6 linked regions of the Homo sapiens genome follow. The protein of the gene in region 3 purifies or fractionates together with the protein of the main gene of each other region. This does not show direct contact. Each region holds a gene or a part of one and is shown on either strand. Other genes may lie near its edges. The genes, in order: FBXO36, ZDHHC11, CDH11, PDGFRA, MMP3 and HSPA12B.

Region 1 (5,039 bases), on a different chromosome or scaffold from region 3:
GAGCCACCGCGCCTGGCTGTGTCTTTCTTTTTCTTTTTTTTTTGAAACAGAGTCTTGCTCTGTTGCCCAGGCTGGAGTGCAGTGTCCTGATCTCAGCTCACTGCAAGCTTCGCCTCCCAGGTTCAAGCCATTCTCCTGCCTCAGCCTCCCCAGTAGCTGGGACTATAGGCGCCCGCTCCCACGCCTGGCTAATTTTTCTATTTTTTTTTAGTAGAGACGGGGTTTCACCATGTTGGCCGGGATGGTCTTGATCTCCTGACCTTGTGATCTGCCTGCCTCAGGCTCCCAAAGTTCTGGGATTACAGGTGTGAGCTACCATACCCAGCTCCTTTAGTTTCTCAAAGGTAATTATTACTTATATTAAAAAGAAAAAGAGGCCGGGTGCAGTGGCTCACGCCTGTAATCCCAGCACTTTGGGAGGTTGAGGCGGGCGGATTACTTGAGGTCAGGAGTTTGAGACCAGTCTGGCAAACATGGTGAAACCCCATCTCTAATAAAAATACAAAAATTAGCCGGGCGGGGTGGTACATGCCTTTAGTCCCAGCTACTTGGGAGGCAGTGAGCCAAGATCATGCCACTGCACTCCAGCCTGGGTGACAGAGCAAGACTCTGTCTCAGAAAAGAAAAAAAAAAAATGAAAAGAAAAAAAGGTCAGAAGTTTCTAGACACTAAATCCTCCTTAAGGATGGGTACAGAAATTCATGCTTGTAATCCCAGCACTTTGGGACACAGAGGCGCAAGGATTGCTTGAGCCCAGGAGTTTGAGGCTGCAGTGAGCTGACTGCACCACTACACACCAGCCTGGGGGACAGAATGAGATTCTGCCTCTAAAACAAACAAAAACACCAAAAATCCTCCTTAAAATTTTGCAAGGAAAATTGCAAAATTAATCATTAATCAATTTGCACTCTAAAACTGTAGAATTAGAATTATTTTCCTTCCACAAAAACAGCAGGAGTTTGGGACACAGCTATCAAAGCTATTCAATATTCAATATTCAATATTCAGCCTCAATATTCAATGAGGGAGGTGGGTGAAAGGTGGTGCTGGCCCAATAGGGGGAATACAGGCAGGACACCACCTCAAAGTAACAGTTATCCATTTACACTTTCATTTTAAATCTTTATTGCTTTTCTCTGATTATAAAAATAAATGCTCATGGTAGAAAATTCAGATCTTCCAGAAATATGAATGCGGAGAGTAAAAATCTGTAACTCTTAAGAGTGCATCATTCCAGCTTTTTCTTTTAAGAATTATTTAAAACCTCACTAACATTTATTTAAAACACTTTTTTAAAAAAGTAGGATATGCTATGTTTAATCCAGCAACTTGCTTTTCTTGCTAAAGATTTTATTTGGTCTACTGAGTAAACAGAGATCCACCGCATTGTTTTTGAAAAGTTGGATAGTATTCTATGGCATGAATGAATCACAGTTTAACCACATTTCCTCTCATGGAAAAATGTTTTTACAATTATTGACTTTGGTCAATAATCTTGCTCACATATCCTTGTGCACATGTGATAGCATTTTTGGATATCCAAATCCTAGAAATGGATTTGCTGGGTCAAAGGGTGTGTGCATTAACATTTTTATTAGACTGCATTTACATTTTAAATCTTCAAAATTGGTCTGCAGTATGAAATGGCACTAGCTCAATTTTTTGTTGTCTCTCGCCCAGCCATCACCAAGTCTAGTTTAATTCTTTTGTCAGAAGTCATTGAGATGACAGCTTCCTGTCACAGGCTGGCATGCAACCTCAGGTGTTTTCAGTCTTTAGTGCCACAACTCTAATGCACTTCAAAAATAATTGCCATTTTTTTTAGAGGGGTGAGCTTTTTCATTTTTTTTTTTTTTTCAAATGACACTAGCTTCATATATCTTTTTGGAGCTTTGGATAGGATTTAGAAAAAGAGATAAAACAAGACGAATCTATTGCCCAATTCTTCCTTCTTTCATCTGCTGGAGTTAACTATAACATATTGGTGCTCTTCGGACAACCACCTGGGTTATTGGCTGCAAGAGGCCGTATCTGCCAGTTCCCATCTACTTAGCATACCATTATTCTCTTTCTAACACTTTTCCAGTATTTGTCACATTAAACCTAAGTTAACTGTTCTGGCCACCTAAGCAACACTTCCATTTTGAGAGGACAAAGAAGACAACATTTCAAGAGTACAATACTGGTAACAGTACCCTCCTGGACCACTTAGAATAAAGTGATTTTTTGCTTCTTCTAAACTCATAGATTTTAAAACACCTGCACTCATTAACTTGCCAATTGGTCATGAACTTCCTTTGGAGTTAAAAAAAAATACAACATATAAAAGATTAGTCATTAAAGTGTTTTTACAAATCAAATACTAGCTACATTCTCCCCACTATAAATAGGAATATATATGTGTCATGAAAGTACAAACTAAATAATATTCAAGATTCTTTCTAGCCCTGGCCAGGTTTGGTGTCTCACCCCTGTAATCCCAGAACTTTGGGAGGCCAAGGCGGGCAGATCACTTGAGGCCAGGAGTTCAAGATCAGCCTGGCCAACATGGTGAAACCCCATCCCTACTAAAAATACAAAAATTAGCTGGGCATGGTGGCGGGTGCCTGTAATCCCAGGTACTCAGGAGGCTGAGGCAGGAGAATCACTTCAACCCAGAAGGTGGAGGTTGCAGTGAGCCGAGATCACCCCACTGCACTCCAGCCTGGATGACAGAGTGAGGCTCTTGTTGCAAAAACAAAAAAAAAACAAAGATCCTTTCCACCCCTAACACTTTATTAATCTACTGGTTTTCAAAGAATTAGAATCCAATATAAGAAAATATATGTAAACTACTAGAGCTAGAGTAAGAATAACAGTATTTTTTTTTTTGTTTTTGAGATGGGGTCTCACTCTGTTGCCCAGTGGTGAGATCTCGGCTCACTGCAACCTTTGTCTCCTGGGTTCAAGTGATTCTCCTGCCTCAGCCTACCCAGTGGCTGGGATTACAGGCTCATGCTACCATGCCCAGCTAATTTTTTTATTTTTAGTAGAGACAGGGTTTTACCATGTTGGCCAGGCTGGTGTTGAATTCCTGACCTCAAGTGATCCACCCGTCAGGCTCCCAAAATGCTGGAATTACAGGTGTGAGCCACCACACCTGGCCAAGTAAATCTTATTTATTTATTTATTTATTTTAAAGACTGAGTCTTGCTTTGTTGCCCAGGCTGGAGAGCAGTGGTGTGATCTCAGCTCACTGCAACCTTTGCTTCCAGGGTTCAAGCGATTCTCCTGCCTCAGCCTCCCGAGTAGCTAGGACTACAGGCGTGCATCACCATGCCCAGCTAATTTTTTGTATTTTTAGTAGAGATGGGGTTTTGCCATGTTGGCCAGGCTGGTCTCGAGCTCATGGCCTCAAGTGATCTGCCTGTGTCGGCCTCCCAAAGTGCTGAGATTACAGGCATGAGCTGTGCTCAGCCCCCCCTTTTTTTTTTTTTTTTTTTTAAGAGAAGGGGTCTTGCTATGTTGCCCAGGCTGGTCTGAAACTCCTTAGTTCAAGCAATCCTCCCACCTGAGCCTCCCAAAATTCTGGGATTACAGGTTTGAGCCACTGTGCCCAACCCTTGAGTGAATCTTTGATTTAGAAAGCAGCGCACTATTTTTTCTAAAGCTGGAGATCATCATTATAAAGATCAGCTTCGAGAAACTAAACTGACCCCAAGCTGTAATCCAAAAGTTATTTATTTGAATAAAACCCCTCTCCCAAGACCCAAAACAACATGGTATCAAGCAGTAAAAGAGAAGTGCCTGTATAAGCATACAGTATATTTCAAATGTTACTATATAAACAAAGAAAATGTTTATGTATAACATTTATATTCTGGACTATGTCAGTGGTGGTATGACACTAATGAGAGAAATATCTGCCCTCAAATCCATGTCAAATGTGCAGTTATTTGGATTTAAGGCCAACGAAAAAGATGCAGTGAAAAAGAGACTAAAAAACAGAATCAGCATGAAAGAAGGATTCATCTAAATCTGGGGCATAATTTGGATAATATACAACATTAAAAAAATAAAGACAGGAGAAAGGGGAGGAAATGTACAAGAAATAATTTTAGAAAGTCATTCCAGAAAAAAAATCTATCTTATAAAACATATTTTAATGCTAGTCTTTTAGTACTTATTTATGTCAGGCCACCTCTTACTGGATGTTTGGTTTCCTGTGCTGAGACTCAGAAAAATTGTCTTGTGGTTAGAAAATAGCATATTCTCAAGGCAGTTGACTGAAAAGTATATTTTTTTGGCATGCCATTTTTTACAACAAATTTTACTTTAAAAAGAGGGTGAATTAATTAGCTTGGAGATTAACTCTCACTGGTAGAAGTGTAGTGGATTTATTCAGCATGCTTAAAAAAGAAAATGGATCAGAATTTAGGATTTTATATATATGTAACTGACAGAACCTGAGATAAAGGAGAGTTTTTCACTTGCAAAAAATAAAAAATAAATAAATAAATAATAAAAATAAAGAAAGAAAAAGAAAAATTAAGAACACTGAAGGGATGGTGGGAAAGATTTCTTAAAAAAGAGTAGTTAGGGCCGGGCGCGGTGGCTCACGCCTGTAATGCCAGGAGATAGAGACCATCCTGGCTAACACGGTGAAACCCCATCTCAACTAAAAATACAAAAAATTAGCCGGGCGTGGTGGCGGGCGCCTGTAATCCCAGCTACTGGGGAGGCTGAGGTAGGAGAATGGTGTGAACCCAGGAGGCGGAGCTTGCAGTGAGCTGAGATTGAGCCACTGCACTCCAGCCTGGGCGACAGTGCGAGACGCTGCCTCAAAGAAAAAAAAAAAAAGAGTAGTTAGAGGAAGGCATGCGCCTAAGTTAGACTTGAGAGCAAAGTCTGAAGAACACCAACAACAGAATTATTCTTTAGGAAGCCGAATGCCAGGGAGCACTCCTAAGGATAATTTACTAAAATAAAAAGGTAACAAGATACTCAGCCTGGTGAGGCTTACAAATGAGAGAAATGAAGCATACTTGTAAAATACCAGA
Region 2 (5,039 bases), on a different chromosome or scaffold from region 3:
GGAGGACTGGGGGCAGGGTAGGGCGTGTCCGCTGCCTGGAGGGGCTGCTGCTTGGGAAACCTAAGCTGTGAGAGGGAAGGCAGTATGAGGGAGCAGCAGTCAGGGAGCCGCTCATGCCTGGAGCCACCCGTCACCCCTGGATTATCCAGAAGACTCTTGGAGGGAGGAGGAGCGCGGGGAAGGCAGCTGTGCCCTAACTGCCTCTTCGGAGGACTGCGGCATTCATGCTCTGGCCTCCAGTTGAAAATAGAAAAAGGGATTTAAACAAGCTTAGGTGAACATAATACAATGGAAAGGATTAAAGGAGGTTAAAGGATACTTTTAAAAAAATATCATCATGGCAGAAAGACCAAGGGAAGATGGTTTAGTCAAAGTATGTTCCAGGAACTGCTGCCCAGAATTGGTTTTTGTGGATGGATTATTCTCTGCATCTTTTGAGCAAAGACGAGAGACTGGGAGTGGATTTGGTCTCACGTCTACAGCATGGACATCGCTTTTGGCTCAGATTTGCACGAGACCCTTGGAGAAGGGGGGACTGCAGCCGAGGTGTGGCCGGGCTCCTCCAGGGCCTCCTCAGCCCGAGTTCCCTTTGGGTGCAGAGATCCAGGTCCCTGAGCCTGCAGGCCCTCCTGGGTGCCACGGCACTCTCGTGGCTCTCCCCTTCCCTGGCTTCAGTGCCTTTGCCCAGCATGGTGCCATGGAGACCCCAGCACAGACCATGCTCAGGGCCCCCCGAGTGGACCGAGCCCGCGTGCTCCTTGGCTGGTAGGGAGGCCTGTCTGCATCAGGTGGAGTCGGGAGGTGCGGGCAGAGGCCCCAGAGCTGTGACACTGGAGACGCCGTGTGACCCTCATGCTCCGCTGGTAGGCTTGGGCGAGTCGCACCGCATCTCTGACCTCACTTTCCCCACTCGTGAAAAGGGCTGGTTCCCCCTCCTCACAACCTCCTTGTTCCTTGTGGGGATTAAAGGCAATCACGTTTGCAAGAAGCGCTGCCTGAATTGTCGGGCGGTGTGCTGGTGGGAATGTCCCACGGCCACCCCTCTCCAGCGAGAGGCCTGGAGACCTGGGGGGGCGTCACAGGACGGCACAGAGACAGGAGCCTGAGCTTCCAGGCGCGGTCGGGAGCAGGGTTTGAGGCCAGCGTTGGGCGGTGGCCAGGCGCCCTCAAGTGGACGCCCACACTGACCTGTCACCTCCACCCTGCGGGCTCCAGATGCCCTGCGCGTCCCCACCCCTGCGCCCCCCACACCTGCCCTGCATGCCCCCGCCCCTGCCCCAGATGCCCTGCGTGTCCCTGCCCCTGCCTCTGCACCCCCCACCTGCCCTGCATGCCCCCGCCCCTGCCTCAGATGCCCTGCGTGTCCCTGCCCCTGCCTCCCCGCCCCCACACCTGTCCCACATGCCCCGCATGCCCCTGCCGCTGTGCCCCCCACGCCCGCCCCTGCCCACCCCGTGCACACCCCCTGCCCCCGTGCCCCCCACACCTGCCCCTGCGCCCCCACTGCTCCCACGTCCCCACCCCCATGCCTGCCTGTGTGTCTCCCGGCAGGTTCTTCTTCAGCACTGTGGCCTCGGCCACAGCTGGCATGCTCTGCCTGATCGCCATCCTGCTGTATGTCCTCGTCCAGTACCTCGTGAACCCCGGGGTGCTCCGCACGGACCCCAGGTATGAAGGTACGTGGCCGCCGCTCTCAAGGGGCCTCATCCTCGCCTCCAGCCGTCTTTCCGGGTGGTAGTATCGGGTCTGGGGTGGTCGGCCCCTCTTGTCCCAGGGAGAGGCCGGGGCAGGCAGCCCCATGCAGGCTCTGACCTGGCCCGACGGCAGCAGCCCAGTGTTCATACAGCCCAGCAGCCCCCAGCGCGCGGGAGGCAGGCTCGGGGAGGGCGCTGGCCACGCTGCTCTGTAGATGCTGCCAGGTCGTGTCAGGCGAGAGACAGTGGGGTCCACCTCTGCCCCTGCCCTCCGCAGTCATCCCTGTAGCACCTGTCACACCATCCTGTGGGGCCATGTAGTTGTGGGAGGGTGGGGGTGCCCATCCTGCAGGAGCAGCCCATGGGGAGGGAGAGTGGAGGCAGCGCTGAGGGTGCTGGGCTGTAGGCTGCGGTGCGCTGAGGCCCTTGGCCAAGTGGGCCCGGAGCCTGGGCCTCGGGAACCGATGCTCACACTGAGCCACTGGAGAGACGTGGCGGTGAGGACTGTGGGCTCCAGAGGCGAGTCCACGCCTAACCCAGATCCCGTGATGCCAGCATCCTCGGGAAATGGGCCTGTGGCTGTGACTTAATATCTGAGGTGGGAGGGTCGTGCTGGGATGTCCCAGGGGGCCCAAATCCAGCCACGAGTGTGCTTGTAAGAGAAAGGAGAGACACAGAGGGGAGGTGGCCTCGTGAGGATGGAGGCAGGGGTGGAGTCACACAGCCACAGCCCGGGGTCGCCGGGAGCCACAGGAGCTGGCAAAATTGGGAAGACCTCCCTGGACCCTGCGGAGGCAGCGTGCCCAACTGTCCTGCAGCTGGACGTCAGAGCCCTGCCTGCCTCAGACTGCAAGAGTCTGCTGGAGAAGCTGCCCCCACCCGCCACCATTTGATGTATTTATTGCAGCAGCGCCAGGACCCTGACCAGGAGGACCTGGGCCAGAGAAGCCCCTCGGGGTGCAGGACAAGACTGCCAGTCTCAGCCCCAGGCATGGCTGCACCCGCACTGCACACAGCCCGGGTGGCGAGACAGGGAGGACTTGCCTGCCCTTGTTCCAGAACATTCCGGAGCCAACACGGTGTGACATTTTTTTCAAGGATGAGCTTTGCCAGCTCCACGTGGAAGTCCCTAAAGCTCCTCCTTCCACTTCGAAGCGTGACTGATGCCTCCAGGGCCTCACAGCCGCTTCTGAAGCACTTCCTGAAAGCCAGCTCCACCCTGGCGAGGCCCTGACCTCAGCGGACCCAAGCCCAGGACGATGCCTGTTGCGTTCTTCTCCCCCAGTAGCAAGTCACCTTCCCCAGCAGCCTCCATGTTGTCTGGGCTCTCCCTGTGGGGGATGCCAGGGGAGAGTGAGAGAGCAGAGGTGGCCAAGATGGCATGTGCTGCCTTCTCTCCTGGAACATGCTGCTTCCACAGGGCAGTGCCAGTGTCTCCGTGTGAATTCATTGATTGTGGCCTGAGTGAATTCCTGGGTTTGCTGTTCCAGATGATTCTGCAGGGCTTCAAAACCAGCAAGGCCCTGAGCAAAGCTGCTCCTTCTTCTCATGGGCTGAACTCATCGTGATGTCACTGGCTAAGGGGGGCAGCATGGGGTCCAGCCCGGCCCAGGCACATGGAGCTGCGGTCCTGTCAGGCTGAGTGTGGTGTTTGCCTTCTAGGATGGCCCCGAGGCCACCAGTTCCAGAGAGGGTCTGTCACCGAAAGACATCCATGCTGAGTCACCCAAAGACATCCATGCTGAATCCATCCCTCTGCCATTCTGCCTTGCCCCACCCTCTGCCATTCTGCCTTGCCTGGCCCTCTGCCATTCTGCATTACGCCTGATTTTTGGAAGTGTGGTTTTGAGTGTTGGCAGCCCAGTGTCACAGAGGACCATATCTTAGAAATGACCCCAGGCGAGAGCTGTGGCTTTCCTGTTCTATTTGAAGGCAGCTGTTTTAGGGTGCAGCGGGTCCAGGGACACAGAGTGGGCCATGAGCAAGGGATGGGTGCTGGGGCCTGGCAGAGCTGGCAGGCTCTGTGACCCCGGCACTTAGGAAGGGGTGGGCACCGTGACCCTGGCACTAAATAAGGAAGGGATGGGTGCTGTGACCCTGGCACTTAGTGAGGAAGGGGTGGGCACTGTGACCCCGGCACTTAGTGAGGAAGGGGTGGGCACTGTGACCCCGGCACTTAGTGAGGAAGGGGTGGGCACTGTGACCCTGGCACTTAGTGAGGAAGGGGTGGGCACTGTGACCCCGGCACTTAGTAAGGAAGGGGTGGGCACTGTGACCCTGGCACTTAGTAAGGAAGGGGTGGGTGCTGGGGCCCTGGCACTTAGGAAAGGATGGGTGCTGGGGCCCGGCAGAGCCGGCAGGCACTGTGACCCCAGCACTTAGGAAGGGGTGGGTGCTGTGACCCCGGCACTTAGGAAGGGGTGGGCACTGTGACCCTGGCACTAAATAAGGAAGGGATGGGTGCTGTGACCCTGGCACTTAGTGAGGAAGGGGTGGGCACTGTGACCCCGGCACTTAGTGAGGAAGGGGTGGGCACTGTGACCCCGGCACTTAGTGAGGAAGGGGGGTGGGCGCTGTGACCCCGGCACTTAGGAAGGGGTGGGCGCTGTGACCCTGGCTCTTAGTGAGCAAGGGGTGGGCGCTGTGACCCCAGCACTTAGGAAGGGGTGGGCACTGTGACCCCGGCACTTAGTGACAATGTTGGAGCCTCACCTCCCAGATCCATAAAGCAGGGATCATGAAAACCAACCGAAGGCAGCAGGGCCTACGGGGCACTCAGGTAAGGGAGGCGTCCACCTGGGCAGGGAGACATCCCTCGCACTGGCTGTCCCCACACCGCCCCATCCCCAGCACGCTCTGGTCTGTGACGTCCACCTGATGTGGCACCCGTCAGCAGGTGCTGGACACAGTGGCTCTCCCTTGTCTCCCCAGATGTCAAGAATATGAACACGTGGCTGCTGTTCCTCCCCCTGTTCCCGGTGCAGGTGCAGACCCTGATAGTCGTGATCATCGGGATGCTCGTGCTCCTGCTGGACTTTCTTGGCTTGGTGCACCTGGGCCAGCTGCTCATCTTCCACATCTACCTGAGTATGTCCCCCACCCTAAGCCCCCGATCCCCCCAAGGCTGGGTGGTCAGAGCTGCTCATCTTACACCTCTACTTGAGTATGTCCCTAACCCTGAGCCCCCCACGCCTGGGGCCAGAGTCTTTGTCCCCCGTGTGCGCATGTGTTCAGGGTCAGCCTCTCCCAGAAGTGAGATCATGGACAAAAAGGGCAAATCACAGGAAGAAATTAAATCCATGAGGACCCAGCAGGCCCAGCAAGAAGCTGAACTCACGCCGAGAC
Region 3 (5,039 bases):
GAGTGGATGTGGGGAGGAGGATCCCACATGGCCTGCTTGTCAAAAGAATGTGTTCTACGAAGGGTGATAAAACAATATCTGGGTCCAGGTGAAATGCTGGGGTCACCTGCCACATGTAAGGGAGAAAAACAATGCTCTGTTACATTTCCCATCAGGTAATGATGGAGAACCATGCATGTCTTCATTTAGCAAAATAGCTGAAGCTTCTTTTCATGTCTTCAGGATGGTCCATGAGTTAACTCCAAGGCTCACTTATGGTATTGCGAAGAGCCCAGAAAAAAAAAATTCTCTGTTTAAAAGCCTTCCTTCAACAGCTCCATAGTTACTTTAAAAATGCAAACTTTAACATCCCTCCCTGTCTAACTCTATATTCGACACTCCCCTTATTTCACCTCCTTCGCAACTTGCCTGCTTCACAAGTTGGTCATGCGTTACCTTCTCCAGAAGGCTTTCCTGCAGTGTGACCCTCCTATATATTTATTTAATGTTTATTGGGAGCCTAATACTGTACATGGAGGTACTGTCCTAGTGCCAGGACACTGTTTTGTTTGCTTGTTTTGTTTACTACTAAACAAAACAGTCAAGATTCCTCTCTTAATGAGGCCGACTAAAGAGAAAAAATAAAAACAAATGTAAACACACTCTGATGTCACTGCAATGAAAAAGGAAAATAAAGTAGGGTAAAAGGGTGAGGGTTCTGAGAGTGGGTGTGTGGTTGTGGGTGTGTAAGTGCATGATTGTGTGTGAGGGTGAGGGGGTAAATGTGTGAGTGGCCATGAGTGATTGTGTGGGCATGAATCTGTTGTGTAAGAGTGTGAGTGTGTGTATGAATGTGAGCTATTTGTGAGTGAGTTTGTGTATGTGTATGAGTGTGATTGAACACGCATGCTTGTGTTAATAATGTGTGGGTGATAAGCAGAAAGAGGGAGAGATTGGTTTTGCGTAGTGTGGTAGGAGAAGACATTCTTTAGAAAAAGGAATCTAAAATGACTGAGGAAGACAATGACGTGCATATCTGCAGGATAAAAACTACCAGCCAGGTGATTAGCAAATGGCAAAAACCCTAAGGTGAGAAGATCCTGAATACTTGCAGAGGAGCAAGAGGAGGAGAGTGACTACAGCCTTCTGGTGAGAGAGAAGGGCTGTAAGGAAGTGGAGGCCAAATTGCGTAAAATAGACCATTGTGGGGAATGGAAAAGACTTCAGGTTTTGTTTAAACTTGGGGAAATCACTGGAAGGTTTGCACTAAGTAGCTAAGATTCAACATTATCTTATTTGCTTTTCACATTTAATACTCTGTGCAACACACAATATAGGGAAGCCAGGGTTGAAAATCTTTCCTCTATCATTTCCAAGCAAAGTGGTCTTGGGCAAGTTACTTCAGCTCATTATGTTTTAATTTCCCCTTACAGAGATTTCATCAGTTCTAATACTTTGTCTATATTTATCAATAGTATTTTGCTTTGCAACTTTCTTTTGGATTCATAATCTATTTAATCTCACCATGCCCTCTATATTAAAGGATGAGTGGGAAGTGGGAGTCCCTTGTAGATAATTACCAATTAATGTGAAGGTTTAAAAAAAAATGTCCTATGTGGATTTTGTCCAAATCTCATTCAAGTTCACGGCAGTGAAACCAGTAAAACCAGTACAGTAGCAATGTAACTTTACTATATGATTGTCTATGACCAAGGGCAGTAAAGGCTGCCTGCTAATAATTCTGCTTGACCTTTCTTTTCCAGCTCACCAGACAATCGTACAGTGTGGATAATGGAGCATGCAGCTCTTTGAATGTTATATGAGCCTCAGGCTTATTGAGGATGCTGAACTTGTGCCCGGCCAGGCAAAAGAGTCTTGTGTAGATTCTTGCTTTTGAATTCCTTTGAGTAACCACAGTGCCTTCCTGGGGCCACATTTAGTAGCCTTCCTTGTTATCTCATTTGCAAAATGTTCCATTTCTCTGATAGTAAGCTCACAGGCTCTAACTGAAAAAGACACTTTCATGATGAACCCCCCCATGCATTAGCAGCACCAGCAGCACCACAGTCATACTGTCCATTCATACACATCTGTACATACATAGACAGACTTGTGTTCAAACTCTGACTTTGCCACATTTCTAGGGCAACTTATGCACTTTTTACGGAAACCAGTTTTATCTGTAAAATGTAGGCTCCTGCAGAGATTTACAATAGTAGTGACTATTCATTAAATGATGGTAGTTGCTATAATTACAATTATTAATAATAACCTTTCAAAATCATTGTTTTTCATTTAATTCCCTCTGCAATTTTATAAATTTTGTAGAACAGCCATAATCCCCCAGATAACAATGGCTAGAATTTGTTGACGACTTATAGACAGTTGTCATTATAAGATTTTACACTAGCTCCTTTAGTTCAAACAGTAATCCTATTAATTAGGTACTGTGGAAGACTGTATTTTCCAAAACATGGCCAAAACAATATCTCCCATCCCACATGCTTTTCCTTCAACATGACTTTGACAGGTCTTCCATTGAAAGGTGGGGTCTACATGAACTCCCCTTAGATTTGTGAGCCTTATGACTCCAGTGGAAACATTTGGTGGCTTATGACTCCAGTTTCCAGTGGAAACTTCTGAAGCTAGTTAACAAAAGGCAAGACAATTTCTGCCTGGTGCCCTTGGGGATCACACTTTCCAAAACCAGCCCACGCAGAAAGGAAGCAGCAATCAACACAAACTTGCCAGCCATGCAAGTAAGCTGGTTTGGAAGTGGATCCTCCAACCCCAGTGGAGCTATCCCCAGTTGTTGCTATGGAGAACAGAGGCATGCTGTCTCCTCCAAGCCTTGCCCAAATTCCAGACACATGATAAAAACAAATTATTGTTATTATTTTTATTGTTTTAAACCACTAAGTTTTCCAGCAATTTGTTACACAGTAATTGATAACTGATTCAGGGACTGTTATATCCAGGTTAGAAATGAGGACACTGAGGCAGAAAAGGGTTAATTAATTACTAGATTGCATCACTACTACCAAGCAAAATACTTAGCAAAAACGATATTTTGTTTCCAGGGTTGTAGAACTTTTTACATCTTTTCATTCTCCTACTACCTCTACTCCCCGACATTGTTGTTGTTGTTGTTGTCTTGTTTTTGTGTTTTGTTTTTGTAAGAATGATATGAATTGCCCTTAGTTTTCTAGATTTTCTTTTTGATACCTCAGTAAAGCAGGAATAGGTTAGAGGAGGGAGAGAGCTGGCTGTGTCACCATGGAAAAGTGAAAGCCAAGTCCACCTACTTACTCTGCGGAAACTTTGGTGGGTTGTCATTGACATCGGTCAGTGTGATCGTCACTTTGGTTGTCCCTGAGAGTCCGCCCATATGTCCACCCATGTCCTTGGCCTGGATCACCACGTGGTACTCCTCCTTGGCCTCCCTGTCCATGTTGGGTAGGGCTGTTCTGATGATACCTGGACAGGTAAGCAGGCAACATCACAGATATTCGTTTATAACATTATGACAACAAGAAAGTTCTGAGCACTGAGGAAGCAATGCTGAATAAAATATCCCATGCCCTCAGCAAGAATCATTTCAACATGGTAATTACAACCAAAGGCAGCCATACTGAAGCATCATTATGTCTTTTCAAGCAAATCATAAAAATTACTATACAGCATTTGTATTTATGTTTTGTTGTACATTCAAGTAATAACCCTATTCTTCTCAGATATAAACACCCTAAAGACTGAAATACTTGAGTGGTCATTGCATGAATATCCATGACTAAACTCATACTTTTTGACTTCCAGCACAATCTTCTGTAAGTCTATTGCTACATACAATTCATGGAAATGTTTTGATGGTGCATATTAAGTTTAAAGCAGGAGGTGCATATTTCATGCAATACATTAAAGTGTAAATATTAATTTTTAAAAGAGTGAACCAAATCGGTTAAAATATATACAATGCTCATATAAGCACATACTGTCTATTATCACCTGTCACGGAAAACAATGATAAATTAATAACTGAATTCTGCATGATTGCTGGATATTGGCACATGAGTGCCATGCTCACTTAAATCTTTAGGAGACCTTTGGAAGCTTTTTCTCTCTGTAGATATGGCAACAGTTATGTGAGGAATATAGAGAGCACTGTGGAAGACTTAGTCCTTATTGCTCTCTTACTTCTGATATTAAAGTTGAGTTTTTAGATTATAGTTGTTATTGGGTCATCGTGAAATATGGGAAAACCAACAATAAATGTTTCATGGTGTACTAACTGTGTGATAGGCACAGGCCAAGTATCTAATCCTCACACTAACCCTATAGGGTAGCCCTCTGTATTCCTTTTTCATATTTGAGAAAACAGAGTATTAAATAAGTTCTGGTCAGGCCTGGGACTTCTTATTCACCATGTGTCACAAATCACAGTGACATTCCACAGTACCTGTCTGTGCTTCCACCGAAAAATAGGGTTGTCCTTCGAGGATACTGTACACTAACTTGGCGCTATTTCCATAAGTGGGGTCATCTGCATCTGAAGCTGTCACCTGGATTACTGACGTTCCTTAAAAGTGAAATAAATTAATTAGCAACATCTCCTCAGATTTTCAAATTATGTTCTTGTTTACAAAGTTTTATTCTAAAATTAACCCTGAAGAAGGCACCACAATTATTCAACATTCTCTCATTTTCCTGGAGTTGAGATGCAAAATAACCAGCCAACCAACCTTCCTTCCTTCCTTCCTTCCTTCCTTCCTTCCTTCCTGCTCTATAAAAATGGCCACAGTTTAAAAATGAACTTTCTGTATTTATAGTACATCCTACATTGGTTGGTGATTAAAATAATATTATAAATATTATTGCAAAAATATCTTACAACTCATGCACTTGAAATGTTCAGTATATCAAATAATTACATTAAAATCTTCCCAGAGTATAATAAATGATAATTAACGATAAATTGCTTTCAGGAAAGGACAGAGTGCAATCTTCCATCTGTAGCAGAACAATAAATACATCATTTTATTGTTGCTTTGCATGTAATAAAA
Region 4 (5,039 bases), on a different chromosome or scaffold from region 3:
CACAGAAGTTTTTCTAAGTATAGGGAGAGCCCAATTATTTTCCCCTGCAAATTCCCACCTCCTGGAGCAAAGCATTAAACAAAGTGACAATAAGAAAAGAAAATGTTTTTATAGAAAATGATAACTTTAGAGTAGAAAACAAGAAAAGGCAAAACCAAGATTTCCCCTGGGTGGGACTCTAACCCACAATGCTAGAGGGGAATGTCAGTGCCAAACACCCTGGAGCATCCAAATGCCGAAAAGCCCAGAGTATCAGCTAACAAGGGTCCCCACACCAAATGCCAAAAACCCCAGAGCATCTGGGGGGTGGCCAATAGTGAAACCCAAAAGCATGAGACCTAACATAATTGGAGCTACAGAACAATGACCCTGGTGTCCCAGGGTCAACACAACGGGAGAACTCTCAAAACCAAGTGTCTTGCCTTAAACAGTTGCCAAATAGCCAAGGCAAAGACTACAAACATGAAATAAGAATTTCAGCCTGAAGAGCAGAGAAGTCAAACAGCCAGTCATTAAAAACTAAAGAGAGGCCAGGTGCAGTGGCTCACACCTATAATCCCAGTACCTTGGGAAGCTGAGGCAGGCAGATCATTTGAGCCCAGGAGTTCAAGACCAGTCTAGGCAGCATGGCAAAACCCCGTCTCTACAAAAAAAATACAAAATTTAGCCAGGCGTGGTGGTGCATGCCTATAGTCCCAGCTACTCAGGAGGCTGAGGTGGAAGGATCACTTGAGCCAGTGAGGTCCAGGCTTCAGTGAGCCATGATTATGCCACTGCACTCCAGCCTGGGCAACACAGCGAGATGCTATCTCTAAAAATAAATAAATAAATAAATAATTTAAAATTTTTTTTAAAAAAGAAACTAAAGAGAAAAGGTCCCAGAGAAGGGATGACAAGGTGGGTTGCAAAAGATGTGGCCAGCCAGGCGTGCTCCCATCTGGGGCACCCAGACAACAGGAGGCTGCTATCAGGCTGCTAAGCCAGAGGCCTCACAGCCACTTTCCCATCTGTCCAAAATGAAGAACATTAGGAAGGACAAAGGAGCCAAAATTGAAGAGAAAAAAATGTTAGCAAGTTGAATCTGGGCAAGGAGAGACTCACCCACCGGTGAAGCCCAAACAGTGCCAATCAGTTTTAATTTAAAGTCAACGGGAGGTTACCATTGTCCCTTCATTGGTCACCAGAAAAGATGTCATAGGGTGGAACTCAAAATTGGGGTTCAGCCTGGGAGGTCACAAAGGTTCTTGGCTTCATGCAGGAAGGAATTCAAGAGCAAGCCAAAAGAGTAAAATGACAGCAAATATATTAAGAAAGTAAAAGAATAAAAGAGTGGCTACTCCATGGGCACAGCAACTGCATGGCTGCTTGAGTGAGTATACCTATAGTTATTTCTTGATTATACGCTCAACAAGCGGTAGAAGATTCATGAGTTTTCCCTGAAAGGGACAGGTAATTCCCAGGACTGAGGGTTCCTCCCCTTTTTAGACCATATAGAGTATCTCTGGTCATTGCTATGGCATTTGTAAACTGCCATGGCACTGGTGGGAGTGTCTTTTAACATGCTAATGCATTATAATTAGTGTGTAATAAGCAGTAGGGATGACCAGAGGTCACTTTCATCACCATCTTCGTTTTGGTGGGTTTTGGCCAGCTTCTTCACTGCATTCTGGTTTTGCTGGCTTATTTATTTATTTATTTATCTATTTTTGAGACAGGGTCTTATTCCATCACCCAGGCTGGAGTGCAGTGGCCTGATCTCAGCTCACCGCAGCCTCCATCCTCCCATCTCAGCCTGCCACCCAACTGCCCCTCAGACCAGTAGCTGGGACTATAGGCCTGCACCATCATGCCCAGCTCATGTTTTTAAAATTATTGTTTGTAGAGACAAGGTCTCACTATGTTGTCCAGGCTCATCTTGAAATCCTGGGCTCAAGCAATCTTCCTGCCTTGGCCTCCCAAAGTACTATGATTACAGGAATGAGCCACCAAACCTGGCCTGCAACCTGTTTTATCACTGGGGTCTTTATGACCTGTATCTATCAACTCCTATACCAACTCCTTTCTCTCCTGTGACTACAAATGTGTAACCTCCTGGGAATGCAGCCCAGCAGGTCTCATCCTCTTCTTACCTAGGCCCTATTCAAGATGAAGTCACTCTGGTATGAACTCCTCTGATGCTAACTCATACAATGGAGTGAGCCTAATGGGACACAATTTGTTCCATCATTGGCTTTGGAAGCTAAAATATGTGTGCATGTGATTCCTGAGTAAACTGGTTTAAAAAAAAGAAAGAGTGAGAGAGAAATTCAATGTATTCATATATTGCTGTGTTTAGCCCTAGTTGGGTTTGGTTTGGTTGGAGGGGATCCAGGATCCAGAAGATAATAGCCTAATCAAAGTTTTTGGTGGGGCCTAATCATGTATTTCTACCGTAAGGTGGCCTACTTTGCAGAAATCAGATTTCTGTTTTATTGAATGCTACCAGGAAAATGGGAGAGGAAGAGAACACAGAGAAAAAGGTGGAAGGCTCCTCACAGGAAGGGGAGTGGGGTATGTAGAAAACAAAGTAAGAGAAGGAGAAACCATTATTTACTAAGCCAAAGTTTGCATGTGCATGCTGTGTTTGTGAAGAATAACCCTGTGATTACTTAGAGCTGATTTTAAGAAGTGGCAGTTGAGGCTCAGAGAGGTTTTGCAAATGACCCAAAGTCACACAGCCAGTGACAGAGCCAGGATTTGAACACAAGGTCGTGTGATACAAACGCCATGCCCTCTCCACTTCACCATATGGTCTCTCTCAAGGGAAGGTCAGTGTTTTAGCCATATCCCACCCCTGTGTGCCACCTACTTGCCTGACTATTTCCTAGGGCAAATTATACCTCCTCCTTCCATTTTCCTCCTTTGCTCACCACAGCAGGAGAAACACAATTACAGTGCTGTGAACCCAAATGCAATTCACACAATGCTGGCTGGCTGATGGCCTCCGAGGATCCTGACATGTGCCTGGGATGCAAGGCTTCCACACTGCTGCGGTGGCAGGCACAGTGGGCCCCAGAGCCAGGCTGGCCAGCCTGATTTACCACAATTAGCAGTAATGCTTGTGTGTTTGTACATATAAATATCAGCCTCCCACTGACAATCCACTCAGCAAACTTCAAACAAGGCCTCCAGAGCCAGCTTGATGTCTTTGGTTTTATCACATTTAGAACCCATATTTCTTTGGCAAGACTTGCCAAAGATGCATCTTTAAAGCTTTCTCCAGCTTAAAAGAAGGGCTCACTGCTTTTCCTGTGCAAGCTCTAAGCAGTGCTTTGCCCTGGCCAGACACTCCCAGATTTCCTTCAGTGCCTCCAGATACAGTGGACCCTCTGCCAGGAAAGATTATTTACTGACATATAAAGTGGCCAATGAGGCCGGGCGTGGTGGCTCACATCTGTAATCCCAACACTTTGGAAGGCTGAGGTGGGCAGATCACTTGAGGTCAGGAGTTCAAGACCATCCTGGCCGACATGATGAAACCCCATCTCTACTAAAAATACAAAAAATTAGCCAGGCATGGCGGCAGGTACCTATAATCCCAGCTACTCGGGAGGCTGAGGCAGGAGAATGGCTTCAACCCAGTAGGCAGAGGTTGCAGTGAGCCAGGATCTCGCCACTGCACTCCAGCCTGGGTGACAGAGCAAGATTCTGTCTCAAAAAAAAAGTGGGCAATGGAAACAGGTCCTCTGAGCAAGCCATCAGGAAGGAAGAGAATAAACATGTGTTTGTTGCTTAAGATTCCAAACCCCAATCTCTGATAACAGTGGTTCCCTGGGTAGAAATCAGGCCTGTTTGTGAACTTTCTTTTTTTCTTTTTTCTTTCTTTCTTTTTCTTTTTTTAGATGGAGTCTTGCACTGCCGCCTGGGCTGGAGTGCAGTGGCATGATCTCAGCTCATTGCAACCTCTGCCTCCCAAGTTCAAGCGATTCTCCTGTCTCAGCCTCCCGAGTAGCTGGTATTACAGGTGCCCACCATCATGGCCAGCTAATTTCTTGTATTTTTAGTACAGACAGGGTTTCACCATGTTGGTCAGGCTGATCTCGAACTCCTGACCTCGTGATTCACCCACGTCGGCTTCCCAAAGTGCTGGGATTACAGGCGTGAGCCACTGTGCTCAGCGTGTTTGTGAAGTTTCATGTCATTACTTATCTATAACTCAGACAGTTTACTCATGAATAATGGCAGTGCTTGCCCCACAGGGAGGTAATGAAGAAAAATGGGAAACATGGGGAATTTCCTCACCTATTAGACCTGTAGTGAGGCTCTCTGGGAGTGAGTCTTGCTGTTCCTGCCACTTTTATCTACTCTAAATGCTCATCCTTAATTAGTAACTGCTATTCTGGAGCTCATCTAAAGTCAGGTGTGCAAATATAAGTAACTGAAACTACAAATTCTGAGAAACATGGCACCATAAGAATCCGTGAGAACAACCCCCTTTGCAGGGAAGAACACTAGATTTCACCCAAATCTTTTCTTCAATCATAATTACTTCCCTCATGCCAACTACATGTTGAACTTCAGCCCCCATTCTCAATAATCACAGCTCAAAAAACATTTGCCATAACTTAGAGGAACAAACTGAGAAAGAGACCCCCCGCCCTGTTGACTCTCAGGCAGGTGACTTGTGCTTTTCCACCATCCTCTTGGCCTTCTTATGCTTTCTCTCAGAAGAAAGGATGGAAATCACATTGGACTAGCCACTGATCCCAAATCTGATACTCTATCCAACTCTCTGAACCTCAGTCTTTTCTTCTAGGAAGCACGACTACCAAGGCCTGACTGGTTGCTTGCCCTGTGGCATTCTTGTAAGGACTAAATTATATAGTTTAATTGAAAGTGCTTTGATTTTCACGACTTTTTCTGCAGACTCCCAAGATATTTTAGATCGGCTCCTTCAACTTCTCCTTAACTAAGAAAGTGAGGGATGCCCCAGAAGCCACATGACTTGCCCTGCACCTCCTACCTCCTGGAGACATGGATCTGAACTCTGATTCAGCCCA
Region 5 (4,194 bases), on a different chromosome or scaffold from region 3:
CATAATGTCTTTTAACGTTTGGATTTTGTGTTGTGGCTAAGGTAGTACCTATTAGAAATAAATAAAATTAGGTAATTTTAAAAATAAAGAAATGCTGTAAATTTTGACCAAATGTTGCTATTCATTAGTTTTATCTTAAACTCTCCCCATATGATCTCTCCCATACTTCTGGCTTTAAGAATAATCTCAATGTTGAAACCTTCCATATACATATATGTTTTATATATATGTGTGTGTCTCTTTTGCATTTCAGATTCCTTTAGCTCTTGGGTGCTTGAATTTCTCCAACACATTTCAAAAATGGGCAAACATAAAAAATTCATCCTAACTCTTGCCCTTCCTTCACAAACCTTCTTCTCTCCAAGTCTTTCCCCATCTCAGTAAATGCCGTCACCATCAGCTCTTATGCTCAAGCAAGCTACCTAGGATTTACTCGGAACATTTCCTTTTCTCTCAAATTGCATATCTAATCCATCACTAAGTTCTGTTATCTATCTCATATCTATAGAGTCTACTCTCATTCCTAACTCTCCCGTGTGCCCATGTGGTCCAAGCCATCATCTCCCCTCTTAGTCTCCACACCTCCTTTCAAAACCTCCTTCAATGCCATTCCCTCAAAAGTTCTTCTAAAACCATCTGGTTCAAAATAGATCCTCCTATTATTTTTTTCCCTTTATAACTCTTATGAAATTTACAATTGCGTATTTATATTTGTGGTTATCTACACGTGTTCTTTTCGCTGGATTATAATCTCGATGAGGGCAGGGGCCTGTGTCTATTATTTTCATATTCTTATGCCTGCAACCTAGCATAATGCCTGGCATATGGAATATGATTTGTAAATTACTCTCAGATGAATGGATAAGTTAAAAACGGCTCTTACCATGTACGAGGCATTGTGCTAGAGACATTAGTTATGGATGATAAACCAATGTTAGAATCGTCATTTGCCAATGGGCATTTACATCCAGGCACAGGCAGATACAAAATGAGTACAAGAGTATATTTTACCATGTGAATAGGGTAGATATGAGGAAGTTTGCTTGCTAGGTCAGGGGAGGGACCTGCACTGAGGGAATTTATAAGTAAAAGGAAAAGATGAAAAACAAGTCTGATTTCCTCACCCTGTAAAATGAGATGTGCAAACAAGGCAATTTGCTATGATTATAGGATTCCCTTCACAGTTTTTCCTAGAGCCTGCTCTACAATGTCACAACCCCTCTAGATTTTTTGCCTTAGGTATGTCAGGACACATAAAATGTCTAGGTGGTAGAAATAAGCATCCTGTTTGCAGGGCTCATGAGGAGGGCAAGTGGTAGATTCTCTGCAGTTCTGGAACCCATTGTGAACCCCAAGCCATGGAGACTCTAGTCTACTGGCTGAGCATGCTCAGCCCATAAAGTGCCCAAATTATGAGAACAACTTGCCCTTGAAACAAACAAACACAACAATAAGATAAAATAACTGACAAATCGTCTTTATTAAATAAGCAAATAGTCTACACAGATACAGTCACTTGTCTGTTGCACACGAGTGCTTCCCCTTCTCTTGGGAAAGATCACTCTATGTGACAAGGTGCAAGCTAAGCAGCAGCCCATTTGAATGCCCTGTAATAACATAAAAATGACCGGCAAGATACAGATTCACGCTCAAGTTCCCTTGAGTGTGACTCGAGTCACAGCACAGGCAGGAGAAAACGAACATTTCAATTCACAGAGACTTAGGTGAAGAATTATTAGCTTCATTTAAAGTGCCCATATTGTGCCTTCTACATATCTCTTTCAACAATTAAGCCAGCTGTTACTCTTCAAAGTGTGTGTCACTTTCTTTGCATTTGGGTCAAACTCCAACTGTGAAGATCCAGTAAAGAAATAAAAGAACCCTGCAAATACAGACAAGGGAAATAGTAAGATATTTTTCCAAATAAAGACATTTGACAATATACAAAACTCAGAATCATAGAGAACTAAAAATAGAAAGTGTTTATAGAGCTTTACTTTATGTCAGGGACTATGCCAAGCTTGTTACATGAATTTATTTTCATTTATTTCTGCAACAACCCTATGAGGTTGTATGTCTAACTCCATTTACAGATTGAGCAAGTTGAGGTTGAGACAGATTTCGATGCTTCCTCAAGGTTACTCAGCAAGGAAGAATGGAGACAGCACTCGGTGCCAGCTCTGTCTGAAAACACAGCCAGATTCCAGGTTACAGGGTTATTCTGCTTCCGATCAGATAAATTCTCCACTTGCTTGGAAACTCTCATCACCTATTTCTTTCTTCCCCAAAAATCCTCCTCCCTTTTCCCTGCATTGCAGCCTAGGAAGCACAGCAACTATTTCAAAACACCAGGGGACCCTTTAGTGCTCTGCAAACATGGTGATCAGGTTACCTTTCAATAAAGATCATCAGCCTCCACTTCCTTACCTTGAGTAGAAAACAAAATCTTTTTTTTTTTTTAAACTTTGGGCACATGGAAAGGTAAGTATTTGCAAATGACTGGCATGGGCAATGACTGACAACTCAGGAAAGACAGACAAAAAATCTCCCTGGGAATTAGTAGCAGCAATAAGATAGGGTGGAGGAGAAGGCCAGCTAACCAACATTAAACCTGGCCACACCACTTGATGGGATTTTTATGCTAACATGGTAATCTGAAAGTCGAGCTTGACTCCACATGTTAGCTCGAGATGTAAGTGACACTGGAGCACTTTGATTTTATATGCATGTATAAGATAAAGTAGCGAGATTTGTGTAATTATCTTTATGGTTCCAAACAAGTTATTTTGTGAAGTAGTTCTATAATGAGTACAAATGTAGGCGAATCAAAATTTTGAGAAGGGAACTGGCCCTAAGAAACACTTGTTATTAAAAAGTTTCAATGCTCCTCTTCCCTCTGATATCATAAAATGTTTCAAGTGCTCTATGGCCAACACAGTAAGTATCCTCTTACCAAATTCTTCAAAAACAGCATCAATCTTTGAGTCAATCCCTGGAAAGTCTTCAGCTATTTGCTTGGGAAAGCCTGGCTCCATGGAATTTCTCTTCTCATCAAATCTGTACCAAGTAAAAGAAACAGCTCAGCATTGCATAGAGGCCATGTTACCGAACATCTTAGATCATGTTAGGTTTAATGTGGAATTTTACTAAACTTTATAAATACTGCAAATAAATGCCAAGCATATTTGGGACTATAGAAATATGTGACTTTAATGGTACTGTAAAGAGTTCTGAAAGCCATATCTCCATCCGGAACAGGGGCCGCATCCTGCTGTATGTAGCACATGCTGTTTGTCATCATATTTCTTAAGCCTGGACAGAAAGAACCTTAATCATCTTTCTGTCACAAAGACATGAAAGTGTGAACATATATATAAAGTGAATTGAATCAACATCTAAAATGCAATTTTAATTCCCTACCACAATTGGCCCATATATGCCTGCTGTCCCCTCCCCTGCACATCTAAATCTTCTCTGGTGGCCTCCTGGGAAAAGGGATTAGGATAAGAAGCAAAGCACAGTAAGTGTGTTTTTAGCCCATTGGCTGGATATCAGATGGTCGGCCTCGATGTCTCAAAGTCTGGCCAAATGACCCAGGAATCAACCTGTCTGTGAGTGTTGGGTTGTATCCATAAACTGGACTGCTATTGATCATCATCTCTTAAATGAGCCATCATTATCAGGTAGAGGTGACAAGTGGGTGAGGTTAGAGGTAGCCCTTGAAAATCATATAGTAGTGTTAGGAAGACAAAACAAACACACAATGAGACAGTGACAAACACACAGTGAGACAGTGAGCCAAACTAAAAGACAATGGGAAGGGAACGCTAAATTGCGGTCTGGGTTCTCAGAACATTTTCCCAATGGGTCTAAAGTCCACGAGGGAAAGCTGCATGGAGGTGATGAGACTTGAGCCAGGACTTGAAGGATGGGCAAGATTTGAATAGGTTGAGGAGAGAAGAGGGGGCTCCAGGCAGGTGGGGTGACAGCACCAAGGGAAGCACCAGCCAACTGCACTTGGGACTGAAAGCAGGAGAGCCTAAGGTGCTGCTGTTTTAAAGTAAGAACTTTCCCACAGTTGTCTGAAGTCCCATCCTTCCTACTAAGAGAGAAGCAGGCCTAAGGTTGGGGTGGGGGATTTCCTTAGTAAAAGAAACTAATTTCCCTAATTAGGCTCCATACAAAGTCATTTCT
Region 6 (5,039 bases), on a different chromosome or scaffold from region 3:
TCATAGTCCTATTTCCCCTGCTCAAGAACCAACAAAGGTGGGCGGTGGTGGGGGTGTCCCTCAAAATACTGATGCCAAGTGAAGTGAATGTTCTGGGTGCCCTGCCTGCCACTGTGAGTGTTGGCTGCTATTGGCTCACAGCTGCTACCTCCTCTGGATAACTGCCCTCAGCTGAATGGGAATGGCCTCACTTGGAGAGGTTTCCCTCCCATTTCCCCAGAACCAGTGACAGACCGATACGGATGTGCAAGAAGCCGGCCCCAACTCTGTGCTACAGTTCTCCCTCTGCAGCTCCCCATGGGATCTAGCTGAGGCTAAACCTGAGGCTAGACTCCAGCAAAGACCACATCCTTCATAGCTCCTTCTCCTGTCCCGCCTCCCTCCCTCGCCTTTCTCCTGAGAAACCTTCTTCAATAGACCTCACATATAAGACTCTCCATCTTGGCCGGGCGCGGTGGCTCACGCCTGTAATCCCAGCACTTTGGGAGGCCGAGGCGGGCGGATCACAAGGTCAGGAGATTGAAACCATCCTGGCTAACACGATGAAACCCCGTCTCTACTAAAAATACAAAAAATTAGCCGGGCGTGGTGGCGGGCACCTGTAGTCCCAGCTACTCGGGAGGCTGAGGCAGGAGAATGGCGTGAACCTGGGAGGCAGAGCTTGCAGTGAGCCGAGATCACGCCACTGCGCTCCAGCCTGGGCGACAGAGCGAGACTGTCTCAAAAAAAAAAAAAAAAAAAAAGACTCTCCATCTTGGGCTCTGCTTTTAGGACACCTGACTTAAGGCACTGTCTACACTGGCCTGGGCTGTGTCTTTTGTCCCTCTGTCCCCTGTTCCTGCAGGCCCACTCCCTCTTCTGGTGGGAGCAACTCTACAAACTCCCATCAGGAGCAGGCTGAAGTTCTTTCCACAATGACTCTGTGGTCTCAAGGGTGGTGGGGTGCATGCAAGCATGGGGACAGGCCTGGCCCTTCCTGAGCAGTGTTCTCGGGCCCGCCTGCACGTCCTCACCAGGTAGGCAGCCTCCCGCATGAACTGCTTGGCTGGCTGTTTCCAGATGGCAGGCACCGTCAACACCCAGCGCACAGTGTCCTTCTCTGGCAGCGATGGGCTCTGCTCCCTCAGCTCCTGGTACAGGAGGGGGCAGTGAGAGGAAAGCTGGCTTGGAGGGAGGGTGGTCTTCAGCCCTCTGCGGAACTGGAGGTACTAATCAAATCACAGGAAGGACTTCCCAGCAGAGCTGGAAGAATCGGCCCCCCTCCCATCAGTATGGCTTGGTGCAGGCTCTACCAGACAAAAAGGGAGGAGGGTACTGGAGAAGATGACCTCTGAGCTCCGGCGGTGGCTACCCATCCAATGTCGGGGACGGGATGGGGGAGCGGTTTCGGATGAGGGGAAAATAGGGGGTCCCTGCCACAGTCGGCAGAGGTGGGGCCGCAGCGCACCTGAAGGGCGTGCTCCCTGAAGAAGCGCAGGGCATGGGCGAACACCTCCAGGGCGGGCATCGTCTTTCCATTTACTGCCTCTAGCTGGGTCTTCAAGGTGAGATCCTGGCAGGGACACAGGGCGGCTCTGCAGGAGGCCTCAGCTTGGCACTCATTTCCTGACGACCTCGCTCTTAAAATCACCCCGTTTCCTGGAGCTTCCCCTCCTCTTTACCACCGTCCCACTCTTGCCCCATGTGACATTAGCTCTGCCCCGACCCCTCTCCTTAGCCCCACCCCTCCTGCAACCCCAGCTTCACTATTAGCCCCACCCACATTAGCCCCGCCTCCACCTCATTTCTGAGCTCCGCCCACACCGGAGTCCGACGTCTCCCTTTAGCCCCGCCCCCTCTCAGCCACGACTCCATCGGGCCGGTCCTCACACGTTTTGGTTTTGTCCCACCCACCCCCATTAGCCCTGCCCTTTTCCATGCTGGCCCCGCCTCCCTGTCTGGAGCCCTGTGACTCACCGTGGCGCTGTGGATCTTCATCTTGAACTTCTCGAAGTAGAGCCAGTCCCGCGCCTCTTCGGGGTCCAGGTCATGGTAGTAATCGCGGGCGGTGTAGCCAAAGCTGTGGAAGGCGCCCTCCGGAGTCAGCAGCAGGCAGGTCGGGGTCTTCTGGTGGGCCACGCCCGGGTCTCCGCCCTCCCATTTCCTGCGGAGGCACAGGGCAGTCAGTGCAACCCTCCCTTCTTGGGTGGGAATCCAGGCAGAGGGAACAGCATGTGCAAAAACTTACAGATGTGAAAGAGCAGGGAGAACTAGCTATGGGTCGGCTCCATAGGCAGCAGGAGAAAACACAAGAATGCTAAGGTGAGATCATGAAGAGCACAGAAGGCCATTCAGAATTCTGTCTTCGTGGATTTAAAGTAGCCAAGAGGTATGACCACATTTGCCTTTAGAAAGAAAGGTCACTGGCTCCCATGGAGCAACAGAATGCAGGGAAGGGAGCATGGAGAAAGGAAACCAAGGAGGAGGATATTGCAGCCATCCAGGTGAGAGAAGGTCGGGGCTGAACTTGGGCACGATCAGTGGCCATGGAGAGAAGTAGATGGGTATTCTAGAGATGTTAGGGGCTTGGTGTCTGGTGGGAAGAGAGAGCTTGGGAGGAGGCTGGAATGTCCCCCAGTTATTTCCTGTGACTGTCACCTCCACAGGACAGAGACAGTGTTCCTGGATGTGTCCTTAGCCCCAGCATGGCCTCAGCCATGTGTGTTGATCAGCAAGACATCTGGGATGCCCTGCAGCTCCTAGAGGGCTGTAAGTGCTCAGAGCCTTTGTGGTTTCCTGTGATGTGGAAGGAAGGACAGTCCAGTCTCATGAAGCTCAAGTCCCATGTATTTTGGGAGCAGTTACCTGTCTGTCTATGTCTCCATTCACCCTTCCATCCAGTCTCCAGGCCTTGGGAAGCCCCTCTTACCTCCCATCCCAGTCTGGGTTGAGAGCTTTGAGGTCTCCTGTAGCTTCACCTACTGCCTGCCGACCCTCTAGGACATATTCAGAGGACTGGGGTCTTGAGGTCCCAAGGTCCTTGAGGTCCCACATAAAACCCAACATTTGAATGGATTTTTGAAACATGTCTTTCAAAACAACTGTGTGACTTGTCAACTCAGCCCTTAGAACCTTCATTTTCTTGTTTTTATTTTTATTTCTTGTTTTATTATTTTTTCTTTTCCTTTTTACTAAAAAAGGAAAAGAAAAAAGATTTGAGATGTTGGACCTAGGAATCACCTCTAGGAATCTACCCCATGGAGATTGCGGCACAAGTTTTCAAAGAAGGATATTACTGCTGCACTTTTTGTAATAGTGAAAAATGAGAGGAGGAAAAAACCCCCCTAAAACTGTCAATAGGGGAATGGATAAATTATGACACATCTGTACTATGGAATACTAGGCCGTTCAAAGAAAGTGGTAGCTTCGTATGTGCTGACATGAAATATCTACAAAATAGTGTTGAAGCTTTAAAACAAAGCAAGTTGTATATCTCACTTTTACTTAAAAAAACACATATATGTTTGTATATGTGTGTGTTTGTCTACAAGCTTAGAAAAATATTTGTGGGCTGGGCATGGTGGCTCACGCCTGCAATTCCAGCATTTTTGGGATGCTAAAGTGGGATAATCACTTGAGGCCAGGAATTCAAGACCAGCCCTGGCAACACAGTGAGACCCTGTCTCTCCAAAAAAAAATTTTTTTTTTTTTTTAAATTAGCCAGGTGTGGTGGTGCTGTCTGTAGTCCTAGCTACTCAGGAGGCTGAAGTGGGAGGATTGCTTGAGCCCAGGAGTTTGAGGCTGCAGTGAGCTATGATCACACCACTGCACTCCAGCTTGTGTGACAGAGCGAGACCCTGTCTCAAAGAAAAAAAAAAAAAGGCCAGGTTGGTGGCTCACATCTGTAATCCTAGCACTCTGGGAGGCCGAGGCTGGCGGATCACCCGAAGTCAGGAATTTGAGACCAGCCTGGCTAACACGGTGAAACCCCGTCTCTACTAAAAATACAAAAAAAAAAAAAAAAATTAGCTGGGTGTGGTGGCGGTCGCCTGTAGTCCCAGCTACTCAAGAGGCTGAGGCAGGAGAATGGCATGAACCCAGGAGGCAGAGCTTGCAGTGAGCTGAGATTGCGTCACTGCACTCCAGCCTGGACAACAGAGTGAGACTCCGTCTCAAAAAAAAACAAAAAACCCCACAAAAGTTAGCCAGGCATAGTGGCGCACACCTGTATTCCCAGCTACTTGGGAGGCTGAGGCAGGAGAATCGCTTGAACCCGAGAGGTGGAGGTTGCAATGAGCTAAGATCGTGCCTTTGCACTCCAGCCTAGGCGACAGAGTGAGACTCCGCCTCAAAAAAAAAAAAAAGGAAAATAAAAAACATTTGCATATTTTATTGTTATGTTTGTTATATCTCAAAAAAATTCAAAATTAAAAACAAAGTCTGACTTTTCCTACAGAGGGTTGGGAGCTGCTCCAGTTGAGGCCAAGGACCCAGGCCTGGGGCCCATCCTCCAACTTTTACCCCAGTGGGGAGCCCCAGACTGGGGGTGGCAGGGCCTCCAAGGAGACCCCATGTCTCGGTGACAGTACTTTTGGGACCAAGGTATGAGGAACTCCCCACCTTCCCCACCTCACTCTCTCAGCCCAGCCGACCTCACCTCATCATGTGGATGGCCTCAGGGTCACTGGCAAAGCTGAAAGCATAGCCACTAGACGTGGTGCCGAAGTCAATGGCCACCACCACAGAGAAGGAGGCCTGCTGGGGGGCTCGGACCTCGGGTTTCTGCAAGTGCAAGACTTAGAATTAGCAAGCAGCCAGCAGGGACACCCCCATCCCCCACAGCCCCAATGCTTCCTCTGCATGGGGAAGACACTCCCCTCCACTGACTGTGGTCCAGACCAGCCCTGGACCTGGCCCACCCCACCTGCCCACCTGCTCGGGCTCCCTTGCCCTCCCAGGCTCCAGGCTGAGCCTTGGACGTGTCTCTCAGGTAGCCCCAGGCAGGGTTTGGCTCAAGCTCCTGCTTTCCTGCTTCCAGCCTCTGCCCACCCTCCCTCTGG

Evidence for each region.
Region 1: the proteins of CDH11 (region 3) and FBXO36 fractionate together in Homo sapiens (co-fractionation; one large-scale study listed by BioGRID). This does not show direct contact.
Region 2: the proteins of CDH11 (region 3) and ZDHHC11 purify together in Homo sapiens (co-immunoprecipitation; one large-scale study listed by IntAct). This does not show direct contact.
Region 4: the proteins of CDH11 (region 3) and PDGFRA purify together in Homo sapiens (affinity purification with western blotting, with the first as the bait; one study listed by BioGRID). This does not show direct contact.
Region 5: the proteins of CDH11 (region 3) and MMP3 purify together in Homo sapiens (co-immunoprecipitation; one large-scale study listed by IntAct). This does not show direct contact.
Region 6: the proteins of CDH11 (region 3) and HSPA12B purify together in Homo sapiens (co-immunoprecipitation; one large-scale study listed by IntAct). This does not show direct contact.

What each region holds. Positions count from the first base shown.
Region 1 is NC_000002.12:229,924,570-229,929,608, reverse strand, and holds part of FBXO36 (F-box only protein 36), read right to left. Parts: intron 1-5,039. UniProt on the Homo sapiens protein: Substrate-recognition component of the SCF (SKP1-CUL1-F-box protein)-type E3 ubiquitin ligase complex.
Region 2 is NC_000005.10:840,237-845,275, reverse strand, and holds part of ZDHHC11 (palmitoyltransferase ZDHHC11), read left to right. Parts: intron 1-1,551; coding exon 1,552-1,676; intron 1,677-2,601; coding exon of another isoform or gene 2,602-2,779; exon of another isoform or gene 2,780-3,583; coding exon of another isoform or gene 3,584-3,593; exon of another isoform or gene 3,594-4,431; coding exon of another isoform or gene 4,432-4,473; intron 4,474-4,625; coding exon 4,626-4,781; coding exon of another isoform or gene 4,782-4,857; exon of another isoform or gene 4,858-4,928; coding exon of another isoform or gene 4,929-5,039. UniProt on the Homo sapiens protein: Endoplasmic reticulum-localized palmitoyltransferase that could catalyze the addition of palmitate onto various protein substrates and be involved in a variety of cellular processes.
Region 3 is NC_000016.10:64,988,480-64,993,518, forward strand, and holds part of CDH11 (cadherin-11 isoform 1 preproprotein), read right to left. Parts: intron 4,556-5,039; coding exon 4,436-4,555; intron 3,457-4,435; coding exon 3,289-3,456; intron 1-3,288. UniProt on the Homo sapiens protein: Cadherins are calcium-dependent cell adhesion proteins. They preferentially interact with themselves in a homophilic manner in connecting cells; cadherins may thus contribute to the sorting of heterogeneous cell types.
Region 4 is NC_000004.12:54,235,642-54,240,680, reverse strand, and holds part of PDGFRA (platelet-derived growth factor receptor alpha isoform 1 precursor), read right to left. Parts: intron 644-5,039; exon of another isoform or gene 629-643; coding exon of another isoform or gene 566-628; intron 1-565. UniProt on the Homo sapiens protein: Tyrosine-protein kinase that acts as a cell-surface receptor for PDGFA, PDGFB and PDGFC and plays an essential role in the regulation of embryonic development, cell proliferation, survival and chemotaxis.
Region 5 is NC_000011.10:102,834,345-102,838,538, forward strand, and holds the end of MMP3 (stromelysin-1 preproprotein), read right to left. Parts: intron 3,058-4,194; coding exon 2,954-3,057; intron 2,423-2,953; exon of another isoform or gene 2,094-2,422; intron 1,883-2,093; coding exon 1,782-1,882; 3' UTR 1,457-1,781; downstream 1-1,456. UniProt on the Homo sapiens protein: Metalloproteinase with a rather broad substrate specificity that can degrade fibronectin, laminin, gelatins of type I, III, IV, and V; collagens III, IV, X, and IX, and cartilage proteoglycans.
Region 6 is NC_000020.11:3,742,006-3,747,044, reverse strand, and holds part of HSPA12B (heat shock 70 kDa protein 12B), read right to left. Parts: intron 4,762-5,039; coding exon 4,637-4,761; intron 2,144-4,636; coding exon 1,957-2,143; intron 1,575-1,956; exon of another isoform or gene 1,553-1,574; coding exon 1,448-1,552; intron 1,131-1,447; coding exon 1,014-1,130; intron 1-1,013.